Regions from separate parts of the Homo sapiens genome. Here regions 1, 3 and 4 are each linked to region 2. The links come from fine-mapping of genetic effects on gene expression. A gene starts in region 2. Each other region holds a variant in brackets. All regions are shown on one strand. Distances are between the middles of the regions.

Region 1 (2,689 bases), 330 kb before region 2:
TTTTTAAACTGCTGCGGGTATTCAGTGTTTTTAAAAATGCCTTCAGTGGGAAAGGCATGGTGGAGTATACTTAGTCAATTTACCCAAAACCTATTTTTATCTTTTGATTTCATCTACCTTTTGGGGAGGGCACAGGTCTTTACCTAGTGTATCATTTAACTTTTGCTGTGGAACAAAACATCCAAATTTAGTGGCTTTAAGCAACACTTTACTTAGCTCAGTTTTCTGTGGGCCAGCTGGGAGGTTCTTCTGTTGTGAGCTGGCTTGGCTGTGTTCTTTCTTGCATTTGCAATCAGCTGGGGTCAGCTGGCAATTGGATGATCTAAGATGTCCTCAATATATGTGTAATATTTGGCTGGCTGTCACTTAGGAGGCTTCAGTTGCCTTCCATGTAGTCTTGTGCCTCATCCAGCAAGCTAGCTAGGACTTGATAACTTGTTACATGTCCAAAAACATCAAAAGAGGGCAGGCCACAATCTGGAAGCACTTTTCAAGTATCTGCTTGCTTCACATTTACCATTGTCCCATTGACCAAAGCAAGTCATATGGCCAAGCCCAAAGTCACTGTGGGCAAGAAATACTTCAGGGAGTTGATAAAAGGAAAATGCTAACTTTGCACACAATCTACCCAAACTAAGTGTGTATTCAGGAAAGTACACTACATATTTAAGATTGCTCTTCAGTTGCTTTTTAAAATGAATAACAACTTGGTTGTATCTAGAATTTTGGAGTTGTAACTTTCCTTCAATTGTCCTTGCAGGTTTTGCTCCATTGTTTTCTGACATTTAATATTATATATAAGACCTAATCTGTGTTCTTTTTGAAAAGAGGATGATTTTATGGAATGCTGGGTAGAAGTCATGCAAGCTTGAGGCTCGAAAGTACTACGTGTTTGTGTGTGTATGTGTATGTGTGTCTTTTCAGCAAGTTTGTTTGAAAACTCATATTTTATTTTCATATTGTGATATTTTCTCAAGTGGGGATTCTTTTTCATATCATATTTCTTTTATTTTTAATTATCGGTCCCTCCAAGGGTTGGTTGAAATCTTTTCTACTTTTTCTCAAACCTTATTTTCCCAATAGACCATTCTTTCTTCTCCTCTTGCTTATGAGATGTTATCACT[T/C]CTAACTTCACAAAGAAACAGGAATAGAGAATCCCGCATCCATAGGAACTCTTCTTTCATCTCCAAATACAGTCTTTTGCCAGAGGCTAATCCCTCTGCCTGTCCTTTGGGTCCCATTACCTGCCCCCTTGGCAGAGTCTTGGATCAATCAATTACACCTGTTCTCTCCTAACATGTCAAGCTTCCCTTTTTGTGGCTCCTTTTCCTCAACATATTATTTTTGGATTTTTTTAGACAGGGTGTCACTCTGATGCCCAGGCCAGACTGCAGTGGTGTATTCATTGCTTACTGTAGCCTTAAATGCCTGGGCTCAAGCAATCCTCCCACTTCAGGCTCCTAAGTAGTTGGGAGTAGAGGTGCACATCGTCATGGCTGGCTAACTTTTAAATATTTTTTCTTCAGAAATCATGTCTTGCTATGTTGCCCACGCTGGTCTTGAACTCCTGGTTTCAAGTGATCCTCCCACTTCAGCCTCCCAAAGCACTGGGATTACAGGCATGAGCCACCAGGCCTGGCCCTCCTCCACATTTTAAACTAGTTTGTCCTAACATCCTGGTTTTTTTTTTTTACACACACACACACACACACACACACACACACACACCCCTACCTTTCTTGACCAATGTTCTTCTTCAAATACTTCCCTTATCTTTCCTCCTCTTCACAGGCAAATTTCTAGACAATACTGTCCACATTTGCTGTCCTAACTTGCTCACTCAACATCTGCCATTCTGCCCAGACTGCTCTTACAGAGATAACCAATGACCCTTTGCTGCTCAGTTCAGTGGACATCATGGACCTTTGCATATTGACCACTCCCTCCTGGCAGCATTTTCTTCACTTAGCTTTCCGGACACCTCACTGACCTGCGTTTCTTCTCACCTCTCTGGCTGATCCTTCTCAGTCATTTTATAGGATACAGTTCTTCTTCTTATCCTTTAATTCCTAGTTTTGCTGCGAGTTTTTCTTACTCTTCCCTCCTCACCCTATATGTTCTCCCTGGTTTATCTCAGCTACTCCCAAGATTTTAATGACCTGCCAAAGGTGGAAGATTCCCAACTCTCTAGTCTTGATCTCTCTCCTGAAGTTCTTGGTCTGCTTATGGGGCTTCTCTACCCAGTTATCCATAGGCACACCCAAAAGTAAACACCGTGTTTTCCATAATCCCGTTCCCATCACAGCCTCTGTGTCCTGAGCCTTCTCCTCTCATATGACGCCTATCACCCTGACAACTGCCCAAGCCTGGGTGTCACCTCTGACTGCTCCCTCTACATCTCTCTTCTCTCCCACCCAGCCAATCAATTACCCAGGCCTACATATTCTATCTCCAACACACCACTCGAATCCACCTGCTCCTCTGTTTCTACTGCCACAACCAAGGAAGAGCATCCTCATCTCTCATCTGGATTAGTTCCAAGAGCTGCAAACTGAGACTTTCTGTCTTATTATCTTTCAATCCACTCTCCACACTCCAGGCACACTGAAAGTGGATCACGTCACTATCGTGTTTAAACCTGTGAATGGCTTTCCACTGCTCTTAGGATAAATTTGAACTCCTCAATATG
Region 2 (2,689 bases):
AAATGAGCAGTAGTAGCACTTACTGAATTTAACTGAGTGAGAAGATAAATAGTACTGTCAGTTAAGTGCTCTAGACCTTCAGAAAAAGCATAATTAATATGGGCTGGAGAAATGGGCTGGGGCTTGGAAGGTGACAGCATTCAGATGGGCAGGGAGAAAAGGATGCAAAAGCCAAGGGATGGCTTTTCCACATGAATAAAGGAATTCAGCAGTTATGATGTCTCAGGTTGTGGACTTTACCTGAAATGACTGAGATGGAAGATTTTGTGCCCGAGGAAGTGGGAAATTAAAGTTGAAAAGGTATATTGGGCAAATATTGAAGGCATTGGTGAGCAAGCCTAGGACTTGATTTGTGGGCCACGAACATTTTTGTGCTGTGTTGCATCAGGAAAAATTAACCTGGCCACAATGAGCCAGGCTTTAGATTGGTCAGTTAGGGTATGGGAGTTCAATGTGATCCATCATCAAACAGATGGGAAGTGAAGCGGTGTGGGCTCCAGCATGTGGCCCGTGACAGAGGACATGGAAAATGTCAGTGGCCCCAGTGCATCTGTGCCAGCCGCTTTGGCCTCTTGTAGGGCTGTGCGGTGACTGGGAGCTAAGCGCTCCCCTCTTAGTTGGTCCTGGCTGGTGCTGAAAGCGCTTGAGCACACCGCTCCTAGGGCTGATGACTTCTGAGGAACCTTATTGGAAAAGCATTTTGCTCTAAGATTCAGTAAACGCTGTCCCGTGCCAAGGAAGTGGCGTCAACCTGAGGCTCTGGGATCAGACCCACCGGACTCACGCCGGCTCTGCCACTTGTTGCCCGCAGTCTCGGCCCGTTCCCTCTGCGTTGGCAACGGGCACTGACTGTCCGATACCTCAGCGATCGTAGGGGAGTAGAGACGTTCCTAATGCCGGGCGCACCGCCGGCGGGCCGGCGGTTCCGTTGGCTTCCCTGACACACTTCCTACAGTCATTTCTTTCAGCTGAGATCTTTCCCTTTAATACCTCGTTAATTAACGTGTAATCTTTTGGTTAAAATGTCACAGCTAAGACTAAACCCGAAGAAAAGAATGAAACCACGGGAAGTTCTTCAGACAGTCGCCGCAAGGTTATGGGCCGAAGTGGTGCAGGGGCGGCGCCCGGGGAAGCGACTGGCAGAGCTGTGCGCACTGGGGGTGCTGCAGGCGCTGGGGAGAGTGTGGAGAGGCTGCGTGGAGCTGCGCGCTCGGGGTGGGGGCTGCACTCCCAATGAAGCGCGTGAAGGGCAAGCGGTGATGGGTTCTGCGCCAGTGGGGCTGGGAGCCCGTCCGGGGCTGTACATGGGGCTGCGCGCAAGGTGAGGACTGCGCATGTGGGCTTGGGGCCTGCGCGCACCGGAGGCTGCAGGCGCTGGGGAGGGTGTGGGGGGCTGTGCGTGGGGCTGCCCTCACCGGAAGCTGCACGCTCTGGGAAGCGCAGAGGCGGGGGTGCTGCTCGCGCTGGGGAGCACGTGAGGGGACACTCAGGGACTGCCCGCGCGAATGGCTTCCAACGCATGCGCCCCACCCCACATTTCACAGTCGCCATGACGACCGGGAGGTCCGCAACGGCTGCGGGGACAAGTCCGTTGAGGCTGCCAGGCGAGTCAGGTCTCTCTGGACCTCGCCTGACTCGGCTGGGCTGTGCCTGAAATTGACCCAGCTCCACCATACTCCTTGATTATGAGAAAACAAGGAGTAAGCTCAAAGCGGCTGCAATCTTCCGGCCGCAGCCAGTCTAAGGGGCGGCGCGGGGCCTCCCTCGCCCGGGAGCCGGAGGTAGAGGAGGAGATGGAAAAGTCGGCCCTAGGCGGCGGGAAACTGCCAAGGGGCTCCTGGAGGTCCTCCCCGGGGAGGATCCAAAGTCTGAAAGAGCGAAAAGGCTTGGAGCTAGAGGTGGTGGCCAAGACCTTTCTTCTCGGCCCCTTCCAGTTCGTCCGTAATTCCCTGGCGCAGCTCCGGGAAAAGGTGCAGGAACTGCAGGCGCGGCGGTTCTCCAGCAGAACCACTCTCGGCATCGGTGAGGAGAGGGCAGGAGAGCCCTAGGAGGGAGCCGCATGGCGCTTTTCTTGAGTCTTGAAGGAGATCAGTTTAACAAGCAAGGGTTTGTGGGTGCCTAGTAGGAAATAATAGCAAGGTCCGAGTAGAAAGAAGTTGGCCAAAGATCTTGTCATTGAACCAGGGGAGAGAGAGAGATAGGGAGTATATTGGTTTGAAGGGCTGTCAGATCGCAGAGAGTGTTTTAAGGTCTAGGAGTTTTAAAGGCTGAGGGGAAGGATCAAGAGAAGATGATGAGATTAAGATTCCAAGAGAGGAAATAATTAGTGGAGCAAGTCTTGCAATATTTGGGAGGGGTAGAATTAAAGGTACAAATTTGAGAAGCTAACTGTGGAAAAGAGGAGAGAGAATTCCTTTTCTGAGATGGCAGGGAGTAGAAAAGTGAGGATTACTATATGGAGAAATGTTAAAGTGGAAATAAAAGAAGTTGGGAGTGTTGGTGTCTAATGGTCTTTGTTTCAGTGAAGTATGAGGCTGGGTCACCTTCAGAGGTGAGATTGATAGGATGCCGTGGTCCAGGGGACATTCTTCTGTCACAGCTTGGAAAGGGCATGTGATAAGCCCTTCAAGCATTTAGAATACTGGCATCGTTACACCATATCATTTTTTTTCAGATGTGGTATGTGGGT
Region 3 (2,689 bases), 340 kb after region 2:
GTTGCAGAAGGGAGTTTAATCAGTCATTTGGTTAAATGGCAAGAAAGATTAAATATTTTATCTGAAAAATAATTTCAGTGGCCCTACTGAGAACTCCCCTAAGCAATTCTCATATAACAAATACAATTATCCCTCTCTGGACTACCAGATATATACAATTTTGGAAACTGCAATGAATTTCAGGTCCTGATTTATAACTGCTATGGGCAAATAAAACACATTTTTAGGCTTTATAAAACCATATTAATAAAAACCATTTAGTCTGACTTCTCTAGGGAGCACAGTAACTCCTGAAATATTAAATTAAAAGAACACATGGAGGGGAAATTAAGTGAGCCAGATGTCAAAGGCAAAACATACTCACAGTTCCAAATTTAGTTGAGTGTCAATTGCCAAGTGTTACTAGATAAATTTCTATTTTCTTAATATTGCTAAAAAACCAAAAACCAAAAATATATACCTAATGTTGAAGTGAACATTAAGAAAAATAGTAGTGTATGATTGCTATATTTTTAATTTAATGTTTGCAGAATTGATCCAAATAAAATATAGCACCCATTTAAGTTCATATGATTGTTAAATAAAACAGCTCAAGAAGGAACAGGCCTTTTGAAAATAGTTCTTGGTGCAGTAATTATCAGATCCCATTGCCTGATCTAGAGGATATTAACTAAAATTTAATAATTAAAAGTAGAGGCAAAAGCAATATCAGAATGAGACTTTTGCCAATTTTCCAGGGAAAAGGAATTTGAAAGAGTTACTATTATGGTTAATAAGCAGCATTGGGAAAGGAGCCAGTAAGTCCATTGTTAGCACATCCTTTCCCACGAGATTCTATGGGTAATGTGATCATGATTAGTCTCTCCAGTTAGCATGAAATTTAATTAAAATAAATCAGGGCTCCCTTCCCTTCTGTGAGTCTTTTATTGGGATCAAAGACAAGATTCCCAGTGCTCCCTCAATCTGTAATCCTGGCTACTTGCACAGGATCCCATCATGTCACTCCTGCAAAACTACAGTTTCTTGGAAGTTTCACTTCTTAGAAGAGAACTAGGGCAGCAAAATCTGTTGAGTTATGCCATAATACCACCTGAAAGAAAAGGACTATATTCTGGATACAGAGTATTTAATTCTATCAGGGAAACTGGGTAGTGCAGAAACTTGGGGTTTGAATAATCTTATGGAAATAAGGCAGACATTCTTAGCAAGAAGATTTAAAGTCAGTCATGTGTTTCAGACAAAAAAGTTTGCTGTTAAAGATAATTTTCAAAAAAAGCTAAAACTTCTTACCAATGTAAAATGAACACATGTCAAAGACTTTATTAATGAAATGAGAGAATCAGAAAAGATGTTACGAATGGTTCACAGGAGAATTGAAAGAATA[G/T]ATATATTTATGGATCACGAATATTGAAATGATCTTGCAAATGGACCCCAAGACTTTTACAGATAGAAGGGCTGTCTCTATACTGGACAGGGGAAATTTACATGTCCACAAACAAGAATCATTTGCATTGCCATCAGTTCTGGACAAGTTCATTTCAATTTCTACAGATTTGAAAAAATCCTCCTCAAAGACCAAGGTACATATCCTATTGGTTCAGATAATCCCTGGAGGCTCCAATATTCTATTAAAAGAATATCCAGTAATCTGGCAAGGTTGGTATGCAGTGTTATGCTGGTAAACCCTCAAAAACCTAAACCCTTAGTTGTAGCAGTTGTGGATTTTTCTAGTGTAAATACTCCTACCATGGCTGATTACAAGCTTTCAATGTGTTAGCCCTGAAGATGGAGTTGCAAAAACATGTTCAGTACTTCCATTACATGCAGTAGCTCCATTGTATAGTATTTCTTCTATATGGATACAATAATACTAAACTTTTTTTTTTATTTTTTTACTAGCAGCACTTCTGATACCAAATAAATGTCTTTTGCCCACACCAACAAATTCTCCAACTCTCCCAAACAATTGGGTATGCTACAGAAATTCAATTTTGATACCAGCTACTCCTAGTCAGCATAGACCCACAGATTACGAGCTCCATCCCACAAAACTGCCCCCACCTCAGATGCGAATCACAAGTCTGAGTCATTAGTACCTGTGACTCCCTGGCTGTAAATCAGCTGTTCTCACGACCCCCTCCTCAGGTTCAGTAATTTCCCAGAACAGTTCACAAAACTCTAAAAAGCACTTTACTTACATTTACCAGTTTATTTATAAAGACTATCATAAGCTAAGTGTGGTGAATCACACCTGTAATCCCAACAATTTAGGAGGCTGAAGCAGGAGGATTGCTTGAGGCCAGAAGTCTGAGGCTGTGGGGAGCTATGAACATACCACTGCACTCCAGGCTGGGTGACAGAGCAAGACCCTGTCTCTAAAAGAGAGAAAAAGAGAGAGAGAATATTGTATGACCCAGGGAGTGGCGGATTGGTTTCAGAATGAAATTTTTCCACTTCGGATCATCAGGCATTAGATTATCTTAAGGAGTGGGCAACCTAGATCCCTTGCATGAGCAATTCACAATAGGGTTCTTGCTCCTATGAGAATCTAATGCCACCACTGATCAGACAGGAGGTGCTGCTCAAGCAATAGTGCTCACATGCCTGCTGCTCACCTCCTGCTGTGCAGCCCAGTTTCTAATAGGCCACAGACTGGTATCAGTTTACAGCCCAGGGTTTGGGAACCACT
Region 4 (2,689 bases), 46 kb before region 2:
GCTGGGATTTGTCCCTCTTGTGAACATGTGTAGCATTTTCCACCCTTCTCACGACACTGAGAAACATTAAGATATTCTTGGTGTGCTATGGAGAATGAACAAACTATTTATGATTTTACTTCCTTGACCTCAGAAATGATACTGTTTTGTACCCATTCTTTCTCCAGATAACGAAGCTGAAAATAGATAGCAATCCTTTTGCCAAAGGATTCTGGGATTCCTCCAGGCTCACTGACCTTGAGAGGTAATGAGAATTTTCTGTTTACTTTCTTGTTCAGATAAGATCAAGAGAAGAGGGAGTTTGTAACAACACACTCCTTTCGACACCAGAGAATCATAACCTTACTATATATAGTCTTCTATTCTCTGCCCCTATTCCTTGTACATATGCAACTGCCTAAGTCTGACAGCTACTGTGACTGGATCTATTATATGCTTAATTTCTGAGTGAAATAGTTTCTTTGGTCAGGACATTTATTCTACTATAAAAAATAGGGCTTTGTTGTTATTAAAGACTTAGTCCTCTTTACATTTTTAAGCTTCATGTCTCAATGAGTGGCAGTCTGTAGAGAAATAGAACCTTGGTAGCTTTTTACCTTCCCAAGTAGATATATTTGCTAACACAAAGAGTGTAAGGGTAGTTGGGGAATTTTAAAACAAGGAGATGTAATTTAATTCAAGGTCACATAATTTTACCAATATAGTAGACTGCTTTTATTTAATAGGAGAGACATCAGGCGTCTAAGAAGACAAGTGAAATCATGTGCCTGTAACGTACCCTACTTTTTATTCAATTAAAATGGTTCATGCAGTTTGAGACCATTGAGGTGATGAGTAATGACTATATGGAGATACATATTTTGCCCAGTATGAATGTCAAAAATTGTTTTTCAAAGAGAAGATTTTTAAACCTAATTGATTATTTTTACTTCTTAAACACACTAATTCTTTTATGTGGCCCAATGTCTTGATTGACCAGGGAAGTTCCCTAGCCACCAGAACCACTGATTTTCTTATCTCTACATCTGTGTAATTTCCCTACTAACTTCTGCACATTTCTGCTGCACTCTTTGTTACCTACATAGCCACATCTGCTGACCTCAGCACTTCTGTCTAATCTATCTTGGCAACTCAAATTAAAAGATAATTACATATTTTAACAACCTCTGTCTCAGCCTTCCTAAGCCTTCCCAAATGGCAGAATGTGAGGCGGAGGTTTGATTTAGGGGAACAGACTTAGAGGCTCAGTGGGGAAGCAGAGGAGCAAGCAGGAGAGGCTGAATGTTGGCCAGGAACTATGGGATTTGAGCAGAAAAGAAAGATTAAATAGTTGGAGAGCTGGACAAGTTGGTTGGAAGTGTTGGGATCAGGAAAAGAAACTTGAGCTTGTGATTGAAAATCCATTGCAAAGGGCAGAGAGAAGGCAAGTGGTAACTCTCAAGTTAGGTGGGATACAAATCACTGAGAATG[A/T]GGTACCAGCAGTGTGGGCAACAAAGGAGTCCACTTGCAAAAGGCAACTTCATTTAGGCATGACTTTATTTCCTGTTTCTGAGGGCCAGAAGCCCTGCTGCAGACCGGGTTTATGCAGTTGGGATTGTTATAAGTGAACTTTTTCTCAGTTTTATTCAGGTATTAAATAAGAATGGAGACAATGATGCAGTGGGGTGATAGTGATCTGTTTTTATAGTGTGTGTCATATTTTCTGTCTCAGACCATGGGGGTACGCATGATATATTGGGAGAAAAAAAAAGTTAGGGCTTAGAGTCTCACCTCTGCCTCTTCCTGGGTGAGTGATCCTGGAGAAGTCACCAGACTTCTGAGTCTGTACACTCATCTAGAAAATGGAAAAAATAACCCTGCTCACCTCAGAGGTTTATTCTGAGAATCAAATAAGCTGGCATTTATGACAGCATTTTATAAATCTAAAAATGTAAAATAATTACAAGTTCTTCATCTTGTTATATGAGCATTTCATCTAACAACTTTTATCCCATGTAACTCTATGTTTCATAGTCTTAATAAACTACTCCTAGAGTAAAAATAGCCTTGTAGTTGCACATTGGTTTACAAGATAGGAGGTACTCAGTCTGACTGCTCTTTAGAATGGCAGATTTGATAATGCATGTGGCCACATTTTCCACTTATTGGATAAGCATCCTGATGTGGGAGCACTCACATGTACATGAAGCTAAGTAGCTTTCAATGGTCTGAGGGCAAAGACAGCACTCTTATATGACTAGCTGAAAGTTTGCAAGATGACCTAAGTAGTGTGAAATTGGCCGAGGTTTTGGATTTCATTTCCAGATATTTAAGTCTGAATTTTTCATAAACAGCCTTTGGGGATGGGACAAATCAGATCAATTGATCTTTAGAGACCTAAAGAAATTAAATTAGTCTGAGTCAGTTACTGCACTAAACCATCTAGTAATTGAATTGCTCCTTGTAACTGATTGAAAACAGCCCTATCCTTAACAATATAGGGAGCTTTTCTTTATAAGAGATCTGAGAGAAAAACACATCTTTTTATGACATGATGACAGATATTGCACTTTTCTAACCTAATTGAATATGATGTTATAAATATGTGACCTTAATGATTTCAAGTTTCCTGTTTCAGATTTACAGCTTAATGTGTGGGACACCCAAACAAAAATGCCTTTAGGATTGGATCTGTTTGCCTGTACCTCTA

The links. PIP is the estimated chance that this variant, and not a neighbour inherited with it, causes the effect.
Region 1: its variant is fine-mapped to the expression of DPY19L2 in testis (GTEx, PIP 0.98).
Region 3: its variant is fine-mapped to the expression of DPY19L2 in gastroesophageal junction (GTEx, PIP above 0.99).
Region 4: its variant is fine-mapped to the expression of DPY19L2 in prefrontal cortex (GTEx, PIP above 0.99).

The regions. Positions count from the first base shown.
Region 1 is chr12:63,999,279-64,001,967 of GRCh38, reverse strand. All of the region lies in intron 3 of SRGAP1 (SLIT-ROBO Rho GTPase activating protein 1), which reads right to left. The region is part of intron 3 of LOC105369801 (a long non-coding RNA gene); the gene reads left to right. Among named protein-coding and RNA genes, the nearest start is that of SRGAP1, 160 kb to the right of the region's middle. The variant T/C (reference allele first, on the strand shown) is at 1,125.
Region 2 is chr12:63,667,390-63,670,078 of GRCh38, reverse strand. DPY19L2 (dpy-19 like 2) reads left to right here and starts at 1,586. Exons shown (of 22, transcript NM_173812.5): 1 at 1,586-2,022. The coding sequence starts at 1,686. RefSeq lists enhancers at 179-678, 679-1,180, 1,630-1,689.
Region 3 is chr12:63,324,083-63,326,771 of GRCh38, reverse strand. The region is part of intron 1 of LINC03056 (long intergenic non-protein coding RNA 3056); the gene reads left to right. Among named protein-coding and RNA genes, the nearest start is that of LINC03056, 48 kb to the left of the region's middle. The variant G/T (reference allele first, on the strand shown) is at 1,385.
Region 4 is chr12:63,712,955-63,715,643 of GRCh38, reverse strand. It overlaps the pseudogene LOC100418730. Among named protein-coding and RNA genes, the nearest start is that of DPY19L2, 46 kb to the right of the region's middle. The variant A/T (reference allele first, on the strand shown) is at 1,471.